Homo sapiens: one gene and its partners. The protein of the gene in region 4 interacts with the protein of the main gene of each other region in a pairwise test. Each region holds a gene or a part of one and is shown on either strand. Other genes may lie near its edges.

Region 1 (5,081 bases), on a different chromosome or scaffold from region 4:
TTTCCCATCCTGCTCTCTAGAGCTGCCCATCATTCTTTTCAGTCTGTCCTGCCTTCACACTTTTTGTTTCCTCTGTCTGCATTTTCCCAACGCTCCCCTCTCTTTCTGGCAAACTTTCTACCCATTCTTCAAGGCTCCTCATAAGCATCCTGTGTCTTTTTTTTTCCTTCAAAAAGTGGTCTTACTGTGTCCAGGCTGGTTCCGAACTCCTGGGCTCAAGTGATCGTCCCTCATTGACCTCCCAAAGTGCTGGGATTCCAGGTGTGAAGCATCCTGTCTTCTAAGAAGCTTTTTTTGGTAGTCTCTCTTGCCTTCCTCCCTAGGAACCTGGGCTTCCCTCCTGGGCTTGCTCTCACTGCCCTGGACACAGCAGATGTCACTCAGTCACCCTGAACTCCACCAGCTTCCTGGCGAAGCCTGATATTTTTGTAGGGATGACCCTGTTTCAACACCAGGAATGATAACAGACATTACCATTACTGATGCACAGTGCATCAGTCAAGCAACTAAGGCAGAGGCTGCAAACTGGCAGCCCATGGCTTTTCCAACAGTGTGTCTGCTTTCTTTGTAGACTTATTTTATTTTATTTTATTATTTTTTATTATTTTTATTTTTTGAGACGGGGTCTCACTCTGTCGCCTAGGCTGGAGTGCAGTGGCACGATCTCTGCTCACTGAAACCTCCGCCTCCCAGGTTCAGGCGATTCTCCCACCTCAGCCTCCCGAGTAGCTTGGACTACAGGTGCCCGCCACCATGCCCGACTAATTTATGTATTTTTAGTGGAGGCAGGGCTTCACCATATTGGCCAGGCTGGTCTTGAACTCCTGATCTCAAGTGTTCCCCTGTCTCAGCTTCCCAAAGTGTTGGGATTACAGGCATGAGCCACCGTGCCTGGCCTATTTTATTTTTTAAACATAGAGATGGGGGCCAGGCATGGTGGCTCATTCCTGTAATCCCAGCACTTTGGGAGGCCAAGGTGAGAGGATCACTTGAGGCCAGGAGTTCGAGACCAGCCTGGGCAAAATAGTGAGACCTTGTCTCTACTAAAAATAAAAAAATTAACCAGGCATGGTGGCACATACCTGTAGTCCCAGCGACTTGGGAGGCTGATGCAAGAGGATCTTCTGAGTCCAGGAGTTGGGGGCTGCAGTCAGCTGTGATCATGCCACTGCACTGCAGCCTGGGTGAGAGAGCAAGACCTTGTCTCTTAAAAAAAAAAAAAAATGGAGATGGGATCTTGCTTTGTTGCTCAGGCTGATCTTGAACTCCTGACCTCAAGCAAACCTCCCGCCTCGGCCTCTCAAAATGCTGGGATTATAGGTGTGAGCCATCATGCCTGACCAAGTGCTTTAAAAATATACGAGTTTGTTGTCACCTTTGTGATGGGTGATTTCATACAAAGGTCCAGATTTCTGGCCGGGTGCAGTGCCTCACGCCTGTAATCCCAGCACTTTTGGGAGGTGAAGGCAGGCAGATCACCTGAGGTCAGGAGTTCGAGACCAGCCTAGCCAACATGGTGAAACCCCATCTCTACTAAAAATACAAAAATTAGCTGGGCATGGTGCCACTGCCTTCCAGCCTGGATGAAAGAGCGAGACTCTGCCTCAGATCTCACCTGAGATCAGGAGTTCAAGACCAGCCTGGCCAATATGGTGAAGCCCGCCTCTACTAAAAATAGAAAGAAAAAAAAAAGGTCCAGATTTCTGGCTTCTCTTAAAAAATAAGAAGATGTGGCCAGGTGCGGTGGCTCACACCTGTTATCCCTGTAGTTTGGGAGGCCGAGGCAGGTGGATCACCCGAATTCAAGAGTTCAAGACCAGCCTGGTAGGAGAATCACTTGAACCTGGGAGGCGGAGGTTGCAGTGAGCTGAGATTGCGCCACTACACTCCATCCTGGTTAACAAGAGCGAAACTCCGTCTCAAAAAAAAAAAAAAGAAAAATATAGGAAGATGTCATACTGGCCCACGTTCCCACACAGTGCCAATCAGCTGGAGCTGCGTAACAGCCAGCCTGTCTAGGTGGCATGTGAATTCCAGTTTGCTGCAATCCCCACCACCCCTTTCTTTGTTCTAACCCATGGCTGCTATATTTCTTTGTGTTACTCGCCTGTACCCCTTGCTGACACGATTTTATTCTATACCTTGCCAGGTAAATATGATGAAACTCACAGCTGAGGAGCTTAGCAAGTAGCTAAGGCCAGAGCTTGTGTTTGGGTGGTGTGGCTGGGGGCATGGATTTCAAGGCAGGAAGACCTCTTTTGCTTGTTGTCCCCATCCCTAGTCGGAGCCCCTGCAGAGTGTGGTGGACCACATGGCCACCCACCTTGGGGTGTCCCCAAGCAGGATCCTTTTGCTTTTTGGAGAGACAGAGCTATCACCTACTGCCACTCCCAGGACCCTAAAGCTCGGAGTGGCTGACATCATTGGTGAGAGGAAGGCAGGGAGGTGGGGCCTTGAGGCATTTGCCAGGGGAAGGGGATATGGGGAGAGGTTCAGCACGGGCCCTGCTTCCAAGCCCCCACTTAGCCCTGGCTTCCTGATTCTGCCTCCCACAGACTGTGTGGTACTAACAAGTTCTCCAGAGGCCACAGAGACGTCCCAACAGCTCCAGCTCCGGGTGCAGGGAAAGGAGAAACACCAGACACTGGAAGTCTCACTGTCTCGAGTGAGTGGGAGAGATGGCTCTCCACGCCCCTCACCCTGTCCTCTGCTGCCTCTTGTCTCTCTTGTCAGTTAATGGAGGATGGATTCCCCTAATCTTGACTTGCAGGAGACACTGCCCTCCATGTTCTTGGGTTCCCAGCCATCCTAGGTAGTGGGAAAACCCATCGTTCAACTTCCCTCCCCGCTTCTACTGGTACCCTCTGCCCTAGTCTGGGTGCTCCCTCGGTCTCCTGACTCCTTCTGATTAAAACAGAAAGGACCCTTAGACGGTAATCAATAAAACCCATCAAAATAACAATGAAGGCCACACGGCTAAGTGCTAGTCCCCGTGCTGAGGATAATTTCCTCACATTCAGGATCTTATTTAATTTCACAACAATCTGATGTGGGCCACAAAGCACTGTTGTTATCCTCATTTGGCAATAAGAAGATTGAGTTCTAGAGAGGTGGAATAAGCAACTTGGTGCAGTCATTTTTTTTTTTTTTTTTTTTTTGAGATAGAGTCTCGCCCTGTCGCCCAGGCTGAAGTCTGGCATGATCTTGGCTCACTGCAGCCTCTGCCTTCCGAGTTTCAAGTGATTCTCTTTCCTCAGCCTCCCGTGTAGCTGGGATTACAGGTGCACGTGCTGGGCTAATTTTTGCATTTTTAGTAGAGACAGGGTTTCACCATGTTGGCCAGGCTGGTCTCAAACTCCTGACCTCAAGTGAGCCACCCACCTTGGCCTCCCAAAGTGTTGGGATTACAGGTGTGAGCCACCGCGCCTGGCCTGCTGCATTCATTTCTTAAGTCTACTGTTAACGAAATACACAAATTGGGTGGCTTAAAACAATAGAAACCTATTCCTGTACACTTCTGGAGCCTAGAAGTCTGAATTGAAGGTGTTGGCAGGGCCTGGTTCCGTCTGAGAATCTGAGTGGAAACCTTCCTTACCTCTTTCTAGCTTCTGCTGGTGGCCAGAGTTCCTTGGCTTGCAGCTGTGTCACTCCAGTCTCTCCCTCTGTGATCACACGGTGTTCTCCATGTGTCTCTGTCTGTGTTCGTCTCTCTTCTTGGAAAGACATAGGTCATGTTGGGCTAGCCCCACTCTAACCAAGCACAACCTCATCTCAACTTGATTATATCTGCAAAGTCCCTACTTTAAATAAGGTTACATTCACATTTACTAGGGGTTAGGACCACAAAGTGCCTTTTCAGGGGAATACAGTTCAACCCTTAACACACTGTTCTCTAGCCCCCACCAAATTCATGGCCTTCCCATCTGCAAAATATATACATCCCATTCCAATATCCCTACAAGTCTTAACCCATCCCAGCATCAACTCTTAAGCCCAAAATCTCATTTAAATATAATCAACTCAAGAAGTCCCAATCTTATTTTCTAAATCATTAAATCAGTTTTGGATGAGACTTGGTATGGTCCATTCTGGGACAAAATTCCTCTCTCTCTCTCTCTGCGGACCCGTGAAATCTAGAAAATAAGTTATTTGCTTCTAAAATACAGTGATGGGACAGACATAGGATAGACATTCCCATTTCAAAAGTGAGAAATTGGGCCAGGTGCAGTGGCTCACACCTGTAACCCCAGCACCTGTAATCCTAGCTCCCCAGGCGGCTGAGGCAGGAGGATTGCTTGAGCCTGGGAGATCAAGGTTGTAGTGAGCCATGATTGCGCCACCTTTATTGGAAACTTTTATTCCAGTTACCAATAACACATTCCTCATTTCCTCCAGAGACCTCACCAGAAACACCTTTAATATTCATATTTCTAGCAGCCTTCTGTTCATAACAATATATGCATCCTGTTAAGATGATAGGAGATTTCTCTGCACCTCTCCTCTTTGTGAGCCTGCAGGGACATTCCCTTTAATGTCCATATTTCTACCAGCAGTCTCTTCAAGGCAGTCTAGGTTTTTCCTAACATACACCTCAAAATTCTTGCAGCTTTGGCCAGGCACAGTGCCTCACATCTGTAATCCTAACACTTTGAGAGGCCAACATGGACAGATTGCTTGAGCTCAGGAGTTCAAGACCAGCCCGGGCAACATAGTGAAACCCTGCCTCTACAAAAAATACAAAAATTAGCCCAGCATGCTGGCGCAGGCCTATAGTTCCAGCTACCCAGGAGGCTGAGGTGTGAGGATCGCTTGTGCCTAGGAGATTGAGGCTGCAGTGAGCTGAGATTGGGCCACTGCACTCCAGCCTGGGAGACAGCAAGACCCTATCTGAAAAAAAAAAAAAAAAAAAAAAAAAAAAATTATTCCAGCCCTGATCCAATTTCAAAGCCACTGTTACATTTAACCATTTATTCCAGCAGCACCCCACTTTTGTATTTTGGCTGTTGTAACAAAGTACCACAAGTTGGGTGGCTTAAAACAACATAAATTTATTCTCTCATTGTTCTGGAGGGTAGAAGTCT
Region 2 (5,081 bases), on a different chromosome or scaffold from region 4:
GTTTTCCTAGGCAGAGTGTTTGTGTCCCTGGGTACTTGAGATTAGGGAGTGGTGATGACTCTTAACGAGCATGCTGCCTTCAAGCATCTGTTTAACAAAGCACATCTTGCACCGCCCTTAATCCATTTAACCCTGAGTGGACACAGCACATGTTTCAGAGAGCACAGGGTTGGGGGTAAGGTCATAGATCAACAGGATCCCAAGGCAGAAGAATTTTTCTTGGTACAAAACAAAATGAAAAGTCGCCCATGTCTACTTCTTTCTACACAGACACGGCAACCATCCGATTTCTCAATCCTTTCCCCACCCTGCCCCCCCTTCCATTCCAGAAAACCGCCATCGTCATCATGGCCCATTCTCAATGAGCTGTTGGGCACACCTCCCAGACGGGGTGGTGGCTGGGCAGAGGGGCTCCCCACCTCCCAGTAGGGGCGGCCGGGCAGAGGCGCCCCTCAGCTCCTGGACCGGGCGGCTGGCCGGGAGGGGGCGCTGACCCCCCGCCCAACCTCCCTCCCGGACGGAGCGGCTGGCCCGGCGGGGGGCTGAGCCCCCCACCTCCCTCCCGGACGGGGCGGCTGGCCGGCCAGAGGGGCTCCTCACTTCCCAGTAGGGGCCGCCGGGCAGAGGCGCCCCTCACCTCCCGGACGGGGCGGCGGGGCAGAGGCGCTCCCCACATCTCAGACGATGGGCTGCCGGGCAGAGACGCTCCTCACTTCCTAGATGGGATGGCGGCCGGGAGGAGGCGCTCCTCACTTCCCAGGTGGGATGGCGGCCGGGCAGAGACGCTCCTCACTTTCCAGACTGGGCAGCCAGGCAGAGGGGCTCCTCACATCCCAGACGATGGGCAGCCAGGCAGAGACGCTCCTCACTTCCCAGACGGGGTGGCGGCCGGGCAGAGGCTGCAATCTCCGCACTTTGGGGGGCCAAGGCAGGCGGCTGGGAGGTGGAGGCCGTAGCGAGCCGAGATCACGCCACTGCACTCCAGCCTGGGCACCATTGAGCACTGAGTGAATGAGACTCCGTCTGCAATCCCGGCACCTCGGGAGGCCGAGGCTGGCGGATCACTCGCGGCTAGGAGCTGGAGACCAGTCCGGCCAACACAGCGAAACCCCGTCCCCACCAAAAAAACACAAAAACCAGTCAGGCGTGGCGGCGCGCGCCTGCAATCGCAGGCACTCGGCAGGCTGAGGCAGGAGAATCAGGCAGGGAGGCTGCAGCGAGCCGAGATGGCAGCAGTACAGTCCAGCTTTGGCCCGGCATGAGAGGGAGACCGTGGAAAGGAGAGGGAGAGGGAGACGGGAGAGGGAGAGGGAGACGGGAGAGGGAGAGGGAGACGGGAGAGGGAGAGGGAGACGGGAGAGGGAGACGGGAGAGGGAGAGGGAGACGGGAGAGGGAGAGGGAGACGGGAGAGGGAGAGGGAGACGGGAGACGGGAGAGGGAGACGGGAGAGGGAGAGGGACTCTTTCACTTTCAATAGATCTCTTACTCATCCCTGATTTTGTAACATCATGCACTGGTCACCTGAAAAATAGTGCTCCACTGAGTTAAGCAGATCTTCCAAATGTTGATACATTTTATTCTATAATATCAAAAAACTACATTTCTTAGTATTGCCACTAACTCATTAATATAAAAAAACTACATTTCTTAATATCGCCACTGACTCATTAATATCAAAAAAACTACATTTTTTAATATTGCCACTGACTCATTAGAAAAGTCTTTAAGTACCAGGAAGCTGTCTAGAATTCTAATTTATACTTCAAATATAGATAAGGATGTAAATTGCAGCATTGCCTTCAAGGTGACCAATTCTTACTGACATAAATGTCCGTTAGTATGGAGAATGGTTGAATAAATCTAATACATCCATACAGATGAATTAAACAATTATTTTACCTTCCTGTATCTCTATGACATATTTTTAAGGAAAATAAAAAGCAAGTTAAAAACAACTTATAGGTGTGGCTACATTTAAACACAGTTGCCCTTACACAGAAACTTACCTGTGTATATGTAAAGAAGCCACAAAATGGAAACTGGGATTGTGCCCGCTCTACTGACAGTGGGGAACTCGACAGAGAGGGATGTTGACGGTGGAGGGGAGAGATGAGTAGGAATGGAGTCCTCATGTCTTCAGCTAATACTTAAATCTCCCACAACATGTATTTCTTGTGTAGTTTTTTTTTTCAAGTCTCGAACAAGAACATAATCACTTTTTTTCTCCGTATGCATCTTATTTAAACGGGTATTTTTTAAAGCCTTTCTCAAGTTTTAAGTTAGTGTCTAATTGTGTGCGTGCCAAAACTTCACCAGAGAGTTTATATCTGTTGGGAAGATTAAAGCATCTAAAACCTTTTCATTTTTGTCTTTAAACTTAGATACATATGATACTATTTTGCTTTAGAGGACATAAAGAGATGGTATCTGATTTCCCCCCTCACTTAATTTAGGTGGCTGAACTTATTTTACTCAAACTTTATTTTTTTTTTGAGACAGAGTCTTGCTCTTTCGCCCAGGCTGGACTGCAGTGGCACGATCTCGGCCCACTGCAAGCTCCGCCTCCCGGGTTCACGCTATTCTCCTGCCTCAGCCTCCCTAGTAGCTGGGACTACAGGTGCCCGCCACCATGCCCGGCTAATTTTTTGTATTTTTAGTAGAGATGAGGTTTCACCGTGTTAGCCACGATGGTCTCGATCTCCTGACCTCATGATCCGCCCGCCTCGGCCTCCCAAAGGGCTGGTATTACAGGCGTGAGCCACCGCGCCCGGCCATTTTACTTAAACTTTTCTAAGAAAATGTACCTTTGGAATAATTTCAAAGTTGGAAAATATCAACCAAAGACTAATTTTTTCACCCCCAAAATATGGAGAAACTAGGAGTCTTTGTTTTTAGAATACAAAAAGTTTATTTTGAGACTTTGAATTGAGACTATTAAATTCTAAAATAGATAACATTTGTTAAATTCTTGATTATTTGGATTTCCCCAATGTGGAATGGGGCTGGGCTGACATTTAATCATTGTGCTATTCTTAGGGGGAAATGGCTATAATAAGCAATTTAATCATAAATAGAATTATGGGAGGGAACTGTTGTCCGATCTCAATACAATGTAATAAAGTTAACTGCTTGGGACTACTATTTGATATACCAATTTGAATATTATTCTCATTTTTTTATTAAGTTAGGGAACATTCATTAGACAACCCTTAATTTATTTCTCGTTTGTTTTTTCCTTTTGTTGAGACAGAGTCTCACTCTGTCACCTGGGCTGGAGTGTAGTGGTGCACCTTCTCAGCTCACTGCAGCCTCAGCCTCCCAGGCTCAAGCGTTCCTCCCACCTCAATCTCCTGAGTAGCTGGGACTACAGATGTGTGCCACCACACCCAGCTAATTTTTGTATTTTAGTTAGAGACAGGGTCCTGCCATGTTGCCCAGGCTGGTCTCAAACTCCTGGGCTCAAGTGATCCTCTTGCCTCAGCCCCCAAAAGTGCTGGGATTACAGGCATGAGCCACTGTACTGGCCTCCTTCTTTTTGCTTTGATCTATTCTTAGAATTTATACTTATTTAAAGATATTCTCTAATTTATCTGTATACTAATTTAGGCAGGTCTTTACTCTTGTCCTTCATTTAGTCTAAATTAATAAGATCACATTGCGGTAAATGCAGATCTTTGCCAGAACAAGATTGGGCTATTAAAACTTAGCAAAATCATTATGGTGTTTGTAATGAAGCCATAGGAATAAATATTGTAAGTAGTCTGAGTTTTTTAATGAATAAAGAATGAAGTTTACGTTCAAATTATTGCAATGTTTCTTTTCTATAATATTAAATAAATTCTAGTATCTCTATCAACTGTGCTAGACGGGGTTATTTTATAATCTTGACTTTTTGTAGTCTAGTTAGGGGAACAAGACTAATACACATGAAACTGTTAAAGAATAGTTTGAAATCAGGTACTAAATTGTGAAGATGACAAGAAGGAGAATTGGAGTACATATAAAACTTGACAGGGAAGATATACTGGACAATGAATGTGAATTAGGTTTCTCATTTATTCAGTGTTTTCAGAGCATGTTCTTGTTCTCATTGATAACATTGGTGTTCTTTCCATCTTAGAGATAAAAAGATCAATCTACTCATTACAACTCAGTAAAAGCCAGTTCTGAGATTAAATTGCTAGAAACTTGAATATTGTTCTATTAATCCAAACATAAAGTTAATAGAGACCCAGATCAGGGTGGCAGCAACTGAAATGGGGTTGATATAAAAGCTGTTGAAGGAAAAATGAAATGGACCTGGTGATTAATAATACAGGAGATAGGCAGAGGAGGCAAAGATGACCACAGAGATGATGAGCCAGAGAAAAAGAGTGGAGAGGGATTGGTATTGCCAGAAGTTGGGAGAGGAGAAATTTTAGAGTAAAGTTAATTTTTCAACTTTTGGAATTTGGAGCCTCGGGGGAGGGAAGCTAGATGACCATCAATATAAAAACCCCAACATAAAAGCAGTAATCTGAAATACAGCCAAGACCCAAGACCTGAGCATCAACTTAGTGCCCTGCAGCCAGGAGGAAGAGGAATAACCGTGATGAAGAGAGTGTAGTGAAGGGGTACAACCAGGACAGTGGGGAGCAGCGAAGATCGGATGGTCAGCAGCCAAGCAAAGCCTCCTTTCCCATTGGAGAGACTCACAGATATGTGAAGGCAGGGGTTAGAGGGGTTTTGGTAGTTGCCACCAGTGATGGTTCCTAATTAGACTTCTGTAACCAGACATCATCATGGCTGTTCCACTAGTAACCAGCCTGTGTGTTTCCATCCTTCAGGTGGTATTGGAATGCTATGTAAGAAAGGACTTGGTCTACACCAAAGCCAATCCAACGTTTCATCACTGGAAGGTCGATAATAGGAAGTTTGGACTTACTTTCCAAAGCCCTGCTGATGCCCGAGCCTTTGACAGGGGAGTAAGGAAAGCAATCGAAGACCTTATAGAAGGTATTGAACTTGTCGCTGCATTCTTAGTGGGACTATGGAAATGTTCCAAATTATTTTTAATTCCAATAGTCTGCCATCATTTATT
Region 3 (4,084 bases), on a different chromosome or scaffold from region 4:
AAGCACTTTACATGTGTTGTTCAACCCTCAGCAATGCTATGAAATAGGGGCTGAGTCTCCTAATAGAGCTAATGAATGCATTATATCAAAAGAATGAAATGTTAAATATAGACACTGGAAAATAAAATTACTTTTGCTTGTATTATAAGTGAATACCTTGAAAGCTCAAAAAAATCTATTAGAAGTATTCAGGAACTTGGCTGGATATAAGATAAGCATGCCAAAAATCAATAGCTTTTCTTTATATTTATAAAAAATACCTACAAGTTGATATAGTAAACACGACAGATAAAAACTAAATGCCTTAAGGTATAAGGCTAAGAAAGAACTATTATAAACTCTTATTGAAGGACATAAATCAAGATCTGAACAAATACACTGGGAAGATAATATCATAAAAATATCAATTCCCCCAAATTAGCATGTTAATGTATAATGATTACAATTTAAATTTCAACTGGCTGAGGCTTTGTTTTTGTTTTTGATTTTTTAATAGACTGGATGTTGGTCTTGAACTCCTGGGCTCAAGCAAGTGTCACACCTTGGCCTCCCAAAGTGGATTATAGGCATGAGCCACCGTGCCAGACTTGGGTGAGGTTTTGAAATTGAAATTAAGCAAAATGGGCCGGGCACGGTGGCTCACACCTGTAATCCCAGCACTTTCGGAGGCCGAGGGGGGCGGATCACGAGGTCAGGAGATGGAGACCATCCTGGCTAACATGGTGAAACCCCGTCTCTACTAAAAATACAAAAATTAGCCAGGCATGGTGGCAGGTGCCTGTAATCCCAGCTACTCTGGAGGCTGAGGCAGGAGAATCGCTTGAACCCAGGAGGCAGAGGGTGCAGTAGCTGAGATTGTACCACTGCACTCCAGCCTGGGTGACAGAGCAAATCTCTATCTCAAGAAAAAGAAAAAAGAAAAGAAATTAAGCAAAATGATCTTAAAGTTCAAGTGAAAGAGTAGAGTAGAACTGAGTCCAGAACTAGATTCCAGTATATGACGTTTATACGTGACAAAAATATATTTCTTTTTCTTTCTTTTTTTTTTTTTTTTTTTTGAGACAGTTTCCCTCTTGTTGCCCAGACTGGAGTATAATGGCACGATCTTGGTTCACCACAACCTCCGCCTCCCAGGTTCAAGTGATTCTCCTGCCTCAGCCTCCCGAGTAGCTGGGATTACAGGCATGTGCCACCACGCCTGGGCTAATTTTGTATTTTAGTAGAGATGGGGTTTCTCCATGTTGGTCAGGCTAGTTGCGAACTCCCAACCTCAGGTCATCTGCCCGCCTCAGCCTCCCAAAGTACTGGGATTACAGGTGTGAGCCACTGTGCCCGGCCGACAAAAATATATTTCAATAGAAAATAGTATCAGTAAAATGCTAGCACAACTAACTATCTGTCTAAAGACAATAAAAGTTCAACCCCTATATCATGCAAAAAGCACTTTCCAGATATATTAAAATGTTTTCAAGCTATAAAGTAAAACAGTAGAAGTCTTAGAAGAAAATCTAAGAGACTAGAAATCTAGAGATAGGGTAGACCTTCTTAGCTAATTTTTAAAAATGAAGCTATATTTAAGATATATATTTCAAGTAAATAATAAGTGTGTGTGTGTGTACACACAGATGCTTCTCAGCTTACAATGGGGTTATGTCCCAATAAGCCCATCAGAAGTCAAAAATGTAAGTCGAAAATGCATTTAATACCCTGATAAATCCATCACAAAGCTGAAAAATTATAAGTAAAACTGTAAGTCACAGACTGTATATATAAATTTAAAATTTGGCAAAATATATTGCAAAGTCAAATTTGGGAAAGTATAGCACAGATAAAAGATTAAACTATTCACGGCCAGGCACGGTGGATCATGCCTGTAATCCCAACACTTTGGGAGGCCGAGGCGGGTGGATCACCTGAGGTCAGGAGTTTGAGACTAGCCTGGCCAACGTGGAGAAACCCCATCTCTACTAAAAATACAAAATTAGCTGGGTGTGGTGGTGCATGCCTGTAATCCTAGCTACTCAGGAGGCTGAGGCAGGAGAATTGCTTGAACCTAGGAGGCGAAAGTTGCAGTGAGCCAAGATGGTGCCATTGCACTCCAGCCTGGGCAACAAGAGTGATACTCCGTTTAAAAAAAAAAAAAAAAAAAAAGGTAAACTATTCAAAAGATAAATGGTTGAAAGATATATAACTAGGCAGTTTAGATAAGAACAAATCCAAATGGCCCATCAACATAAAAAGATGCTCTAACTGTAGCCAGAGAAATACGAATCAAAGTACCAACGAGCCCAACACATGGACGAAAACTTCAGAGAACACTACAGTCCCAGAAGAGAGGTAAAGGGCAAGAAATGAATCATTTATTGCTGATGGAAATGTGCATTGTAGAGCTGATATCTGTTCAAATTAAATATGCATATTTGACCTCAATTCTACTACTGATATCTACACCAAGGAAATGAAAGGAAATGCACAAGATTATTTATTGCCACACTCTAGAAGGAAAAACAGAGTGCATGCCCATCAATAGAATAGTTGAATAAATTATGATTCATGCATAATATAGAACATTATGCATTCATTTAAAAATGAGTTTGATGTTTAAAGGTTGACTTAGAAGGATTCCCGTGCAAAGTGAACAAAACAGAATACCGAGAAGGATGTATGTGAGGGATGCATGTGGGCACCTGGGAAAGGAGATGAAGAAAGCAACTGAAGGATATTTACCAAGTTGTTAATATGCATTACCTGACATGGTGATATAGGAGTAGGGGTGAGGAAGTGAAGGATCTGAGTAGGTGGAAAAAGAAAAGCAAAAGTACAACAGCGGGAGAAAAAACAGGATGACTCGTCTAGAAGAGACATTGTCAGTAACAAGTAAATAACATTTTCTGGAATATAAAAAAAAAAGCTATATGAATGTCATCATTATATGTAAAATATGAATGTAAAATACATGGGAGGATAATATGCATTAATAAAAATTATGGTGCTGGCAACAGTATCATGGATGACTGTATTATTATTTCCTTTTCCTTAACATTGTTATGCTATCTTTGAGTAAAATTAATTTTAGAAATTTAAAAATAATTGTCATTATACTTAAACCTTATATTTAAACAAGAAAATAATTCAAAAAACCAAAGCAGTTTAACTTTCTTTCATTACCTGAAATTCAGCCTTTTTACACAGCTAGAGAACTTCAGTTGATCTTGTGAAGGACAAAGAAGCAGAAAGACTTCTCTAGGATGTTGGGTTTCCTAAAAGTTAAACTCAATCATTTAAAGTTGCAAATAGGTAGGCAGGATGGATTCTGAAGCACAGATTTCCCAAATGCCCTTTTTGCAGCAGATTCAGCTTCTAAACAAGTTTCAAGGGCAATGTTCATGATAGACGCAACTTTTTCTTAACATTATATTGCATTGTCAATATGTATTCCATCATTTTATGCTTTTCAATGCACTTCCATTTATAAAAGCCGCATAGTTTGCTCTTATATGCCAATATGTTTGTAGCTCAAAATATACTTGAAATATTTTAAGTCCGTTTGTGCTCTTGATTTATGAACTAAATATACTACATTTTCCATTGTTAAAATAACACCTTGGCTAGGTGTGGTGGCTCATGCCTATAATCCCAGTGCTTTGGGAGGCTGAGGCAAGAGGATCACTTGAGCCCAGGAGTTCAAGACCAGCCTGGGCAACATAGGGAGACTCTAGCTCTACAAAAAATTTAAAAATTAGCTGGATGCGGGGGCACATGCCTGTGGTTCCAGCCACCCAGGAGGCTGAGCCCAGGAGATCAAAGCTGCAGTGAGCCATGATCACGCCACTGTACTCCAGCCTGGGCAATAGAGCAAGACTCTGTCTCAAAAAAAAAATTAAAGACACCTTGAATATTCTGTTGTTTTTAAAGAGCAGATTCATAGGATCATAGATGCATGACGCATCTTCTTAAAGATACATTATCATAGATCCTCTAATTAGAAGATATTCACTTATAGACAAAGATATATATATATATATATATATATATATATATATAATTTTTCTTTTTTTTTGAGATAGAGTCTCGCTCTGTCACC
Region 4 (5,456 bases):
GTTAGTTCTTTTTCTAGGGATGTCTGCGGAAGGGGCGCCAGGCTGAGGGCCAGCCTGGAGAAAGAAAGAAAGGAAGGAAGGAAGGAAGGAGGAGGGGGGCTTCAGTTTTCCCTGAGCCATCCTAGGTGTCCCGTTTCGTGATTCAGCTGCACCTAGAACTTAACTACTACTGAAAGTTTATAGTAGATTAGAAGCGAAGTTGGTCAGCAGACTAAATATAGTCCATGTGACTGAGGCGGGTTTTACTCTGAAATTACCTGAAAATGAAAACCACTAAATGTCAGAATCTAAATCGTTAGGCGTTTTCACAACTTCTTGGGAATCTTTCCATGGTTAAAAATCTTACCAATTTAACAAGACTAACTTTATTTCTAAGCGTACAGACTCATTTTATAGTCTGAACTAGTATTTAGGTTTATTTATTTAGATAATACATGTAGCACCCACCATTGCTTTCCCCCTTTCATATTTTCCTGTCTGGACAATTTCGAGTTCATTTCCATCCCAGTAAAACAGCACTTACCCAAAGAATGAGGAAAGCACATATGGTATGATGGCAGTGTACTAGTAGAGGAGGGGAGATTTGATGCCTCTATAGCTAACATACCTGATTAATAAATTTAAAAAAAAATTGCATCGTAATGACCAGAAGTCCAGTGCAGTTACAGTTTGTGTAAATAAGTACTTAATCTCATAAGGACCTCATGCCCCAAATCTTTCCTGGTGCTTGCAGTTGATAGTTTTGGGCTCTGACTTACTGTAAACATTTAAGTATTCTTTTTTTTTCCCCTCAATTATTGCGCATTTACTGAAATATAGACTTCTTTTTTTCACTTAAATATGTGGTCTGAGATATCATTAGAGACTTTTACAGTGTTTCCAGAACTAAACACTATTTTCCTAGGAACTATCTGATGTTTTAAGAATGTACCTCTGTAGTATTACAAATGTCGCCACCATTCAGGGTACCTGAGAACTGGGCCTGAGAGCAGGGCCCAGTTAAGTGTTAGTGATTACGCACTTTTGGGGAAAAAAAAAGTAGGTAATTCCAAAATTTCTTTCAGGTTTTGTTTCCCTTGATTTTTTTTTTTTTTTAAATAGGCTTTGGTATTTTAAAAATGCACAGTGTAGTATTTAAAAAATACACAGTGTAGCTGCAGCTGCAGCTGCACAAAACAGCACTCTGTCCTCATTCCCGGTTTCATTCACATTTAAGTGTTTACCCCTTCGAATTTTTGTTGGAAAACTACGAGGGTAGGTATTTCAGTGCATCGTCTATAAAACATATTAAACTTAATGTACGACTTAAGGGTGTCTTGGAAATGCCATGTATGATTACTGTTTGCTCCGAATTGTTTTATCAGCACTTCATCAGGATTTATGTAAATATATAGCAAGATGTTTTAAGACGCATTTCTTTACCCTTTTGAGACTTTTTCAATTTAATTCTCCCCCCTCCACCCATTTTTGTAGGGAATATGGATGAATAACATTTGGTTACATAATTGTAATCAAATATATGCATTTGTATAATATAATGGCAGTTCAGAATTTTTAAATTGATACAATTCAATCTCAGAGTTATAAAACTTCTAAACTGCTGAATTCTCCTTTGGTAATTAATAGTTTGATTATTCCTAGGTGTTGTGTATTTTCACAAAATTTTTTTTATTCTGAAGAAAACACTTACAGAGTATATTTCATGCTTTTCAGTGGGCAGTGGGAATGAGAAGGACAGATGATCATGAAGCATTCCTTAATATTTTTGAGCAGGATAACTTCTTTTTTAACCTTTGTCAAAATAACTGCCCTGCCATACTATTTAGGTAATGAGGTTATACAATGAGTGGTTTTGTTGTAATAGCTATCAAAGTGTTAAGCGGAACAATATATAAATGAATAAAACTGATTTTAGTGGTCTATAAAAATTGAGAAATACGTGTTTTCTGTTACATAATGGAAATAGGCCTTTTTGTAAATCTTATTAGTAGTCTTCTGTTGGTAGTGGGTAAGGGCTACTTTTTCAATCCAGTCTGCTTTTTTATAGAATAGTGATTCACAATTTTTTTCTCTGAAGGATCACATGGTAAATATTTCTGGCTTTGTGAGCCCTGTGATTGCATCTGCTGCCATTGTAGCCAAATACAGTATCTGACCAAGTGGGCATAGGTGTGTTCAAATAAAGCTTTATTTATACAAATAGGTTGGTAGCTTTCCCCCACTCTAGAAAATAATACCAGAGGTCTAAATGTGGTGCTATGCCATTGATGTTTGGGTTGATTCGGAATTTTCCACAACAGCGTTTTATAATTATTTTTGTGCTTAGACTCTTGTGACAATTTGTTGATCTTCCACAGTTCCCTCAGAATAATACCCAGCTGTCCATTCCCAAATTTTGTGTTTCATTTCAGAGTTTGTCAGCATAAGAACCTCTTTTAGGTTTATCCATGTTTTCAGGTTTCTTCACCATTCTTTGCTTCTGGAGGATCCCACTCCTATCCTGTGACATTGAATGAATGCCTGTCTGTGGCTCCCTGCTTCTGACTAAAGCGACATAGAATCTAATGTCAGTCATTTGTCTTTACTAAATGAAAACTACTAGACAAAGAAACATACCAAAACTTACTCATATGTTTCTTTGTCTAGTAGTTTTTATTTTAAGCCTACTGGTATGACTACCTTTGTCTACTTTAGAGGGAATTTTTGACATAAGCAAGGGGTTGGGCAAATTTTTTTCTTTTTAGGAAACATTAACTTAGTCTTTCAAAAAAGACTCTCCCCCGCCCCAGTAAAAAATATTGGAAAGAGCCTGTGCTTTAGCAGAGGGCCTACAGTCAAGGTATGTTTGGCCTGGGGTAGAGGTACTTCTGACCTTTGCTCTGAAAAGAATTAGCTGTAGACTTACCTGGGTGTAGCTACTGAGTAGCATAGAGCAGAATGGAAAATGCAACAGCTTTGTGAAAAAATTACACAGTACACTTTCTCAGCTCTAGTCAGGAGTGGGTTTTGTGTGTGCTGGACTTTTGACCCCTTAGCCCTCGGGGAAGCCCAGGTAGGACCTGGGACAATCAGAATTCCTGGCTAGTTGCCACCAGCTACAAGCAGTCTCTTCTCTTTATCTGACCCTGCTGCACATATATTATCATTATCTGTGTTTACCATGATGTGGAAAAGACTAGGCAGAAAACTCCAGGGTTGTCATTGCCTACTTTATGACCTTGGTTGAGTTGCTCATTTTATTCAGACTGTAGTTGTCGCAACTCATAAAGTTGCCTTGAGGAGTAAATGAAAATACCTTTGTAAATGTATGGTAGCAGGCCCAGTGTTAGTTTCATTTCACTTACTTCTCTATTCTTAGGACCTTCAGGGGTGGGAAACACATCTCCTGTTGTCAGTTTGTTCTGATGACAGGCCCTGTCACCCACTCTGCCTTGGCCCAGTTTTGTCTTAATGGGCTGCTTCCCACTTCTGCCATTTCCACTTCCTCTGCTTGAATTCTCCTTTTCCTTTGCCCTGTGATTTCCATATTCAAAATTTAATGGTTCCTACATTTGAGTTAGTTTTTATGACTTTCTTTGGAGTGTGGGGAGAGCCAGCAAGCCATAGTTTCTCAGGCAGAAAAAGGCACAAGAGGCTTGGGGGGTTATATTATGGACTACAAATAATGTGAGTTGCAAAAAGATCTTTAAATACAGATTCAAAAAATTGGCAAAATTAAAAATGTTCTTCCTAGCATGCTTAAAATTGTTTTTTTAAATTGTTGAAATATTTCCCCTATATCCTTATATTTACCTAGGTGAATTACTATACATTTTATTATGGTTATAATCATAACAAAGACATATGTCCTTATATTATGGTTGGAAAAGTTGAATAGATGTGTTTATGAAAAATTGTTATACTTCTAAAATGTAATGAATTCCTAATCTTGTATTGCCTTTATATCTAACTGCTGGACCATATAGTAAAGTGATATGATACCGGCACAGTGGCTCATACTTGTAGTCTCAGCACTTTGGGAGGCCAAGGTGGGAAGATTGCTTGAGACCTGGAGTTCAAGACCAGCCTGATCAATATAGTGAGACCCTGTCACTACAAAAAATTTAAAAAAAATTAGTTGGGCTTGGTGGCACGCACCTGTAATCCCAGCTACTTGGGAGGCTAAGGCAGGAGGATTGCTTGGGCCTGGAGGATGGCTTGAGTCTAGGATTTCGAGGCTGCAGTGAGCTGTGATGATGCCACCGCACTCCCACCTGGTGACAGAGTGAGACCCTGTCTCTAAAAAAAATAAAAAAAAAATTAAAAAAAGAGACACCTAGAATAGGTCATTTGTTTTATGCAAATAGTATATCTTTATTCCAAACAGTTTATTTCTAGGTGTGGTTTGTTAGTCAATAAATACATGTAAATTGAAAGGTCTTATATAAGAAGATTTTTCTGGGGGGAGGATTGGTTTATGGAACGAATTATTTCTTATTTTTCATGGCAACCTACAAATTGACTTCCTTTGTTCTCATCACCGTCTTTGTTGTTAGAATATGTTTAGAGTAGTCTGGTGGTAGGTGTGGTATTCAGTGAAAACTGACATTTTTTTCCATTTTCAAAATGCATTTAAAATAAAGTTTTAATAATGTATTTACTGTTAAGAAATATTTTTTATTGTTGAATGACATATTGTTTTCACCTTCACTTTTATGGCTTTGAGTATTTACAATATCAGCTGTTGGCTGGGCACTGTGGCTCACACCTGTAATCCCAGCGCTTTGGAGGCCGAGGCTGAGCAGACTGCTTGAGCCCAGGAGTTTGAGACCAGCCTTGGAAACATGACAAAACCCCATCTTTACTAAAAATGCAACAACAACAACAACAACAAAAAATCAGCTGTCAGTAAAGATTGTCTTTAGTTACATAGTTCTCCCGTTTACTCCTCTAATCACTTTTTTTAAGTGGAAAGGAATTTGTTACTGAACATTTAATAGTATTTAATGGTTGTGAGGGAGTTTGAGCTTCCAGCAGAATGTCCCAGTACCAGGCCCCCAAGGGAGTTTCTGCCTCTTCTGTGATCAGAAGTCCACCGGTCTAGGGCCATACAGCCACTGCTCTGGTCAAGACACAGTTACAGTAAGAAAAATCCTGCTATTTGGGGGACCCTAGAACCATACCCTGCCTATTGTGGTCCAGGAAACAATGCTGTGGGCCCTAGCTCTATACAGGCATTATTCAGAGATATTGCAGGTTCTAGTCTAGACCACTGCAATAAAGTGAATCTTGCAATAAAGCGAGTCAGATGAATCTTTTGGTTTCCAAGTGCATATGGGAGTTAGAGTTACACTATACTGTAGTCTATACAGTGTGCAATAGCATTATGTCTAAAAAATATACATAATTAAAAAATATTTTATTGCCAAAAAATGCTAACGATCATCTGAACCTTCAGCAGTTCATAATATTTTTGC

The links. Proteins that work in one complex are often made in the same cells at the same time.
Region 1: the proteins of NEK7 (region 4) and NFATC2IP interact in binary tests that used the Homo sapiens proteins (3 or more experiments, as listed by UniProt).
Region 2: the proteins of NEK7 (region 4) and SPRED2 interact in binary tests that used the Homo sapiens proteins (3 or more experiments, as listed by UniProt).
Region 3: the proteins of NEK7 (region 4) and RAP1B interact in binary tests that used the Homo sapiens proteins (3 or more experiments, as listed by UniProt).

The regions. Positions count from the first base shown.
Region 1 is NC_000016.10:28,956,436-28,961,516, forward strand, and holds part of NFATC2IP (NFATC2-interacting protein), read left to right. Parts: intron 1-2,147; exon of another isoform or gene 2,148-2,226; intron 2,227-2,281; coding exon 2,282-2,426; intron 2,427-2,555; coding exon 2,556-2,665; intron 2,666-5,081. UniProt on the Homo sapiens protein: In T-helper 2 (Th2) cells, regulates the magnitude of NFAT-driven transcription of a specific subset of cytokine genes, including IL3, IL4, IL5 and IL13, but not IL2.
Region 2 is NC_000002.12:65,334,520-65,339,600, reverse strand, and holds part of SPRED2 (sprouty-related, EVH1 domain-containing protein 2), read left to right. Parts: intron 1-4,827; coding exon 4,828-4,996; intron 4,997-5,013; exon of another isoform or gene 5,014-5,081. UniProt on the Homo sapiens protein: Negatively regulates Ras signaling pathways and downstream activation of MAP kinases. Recruits and translocates NF1 to the cell membrane, thereby enabling NF1-dependent hydrolysis of active GTP-bound Ras to inactive GDP-bound Ras.
Region 3 is NC_000012.12:68,668,898-68,672,981, forward strand, and holds the end of RAP1B (ras-related protein Rap-1b isoform 1 precursor), read left to right. Parts: 3' UTR 1-3,004; downstream 3,005-4,084. UniProt on the Homo sapiens protein: GTP-binding protein that possesses intrinsic GTPase activity. Contributes to the polarizing activity of KRIT1 and CDH5 in the establishment and maintenance of correct endothelial cell polarity and vascular lumen.
Region 4 is NC_000001.11:198,159,234-198,164,689, forward strand, and holds part of NEK7 (serine/threonine-protein kinase Nek7), read left to right. Parts: intron 1-5,456. UniProt on the Homo sapiens protein: Protein kinase which plays an important role in mitotic cell cycle progression. Required for microtubule nucleation activity of the centrosome, robust mitotic spindle formation and cytokinesis.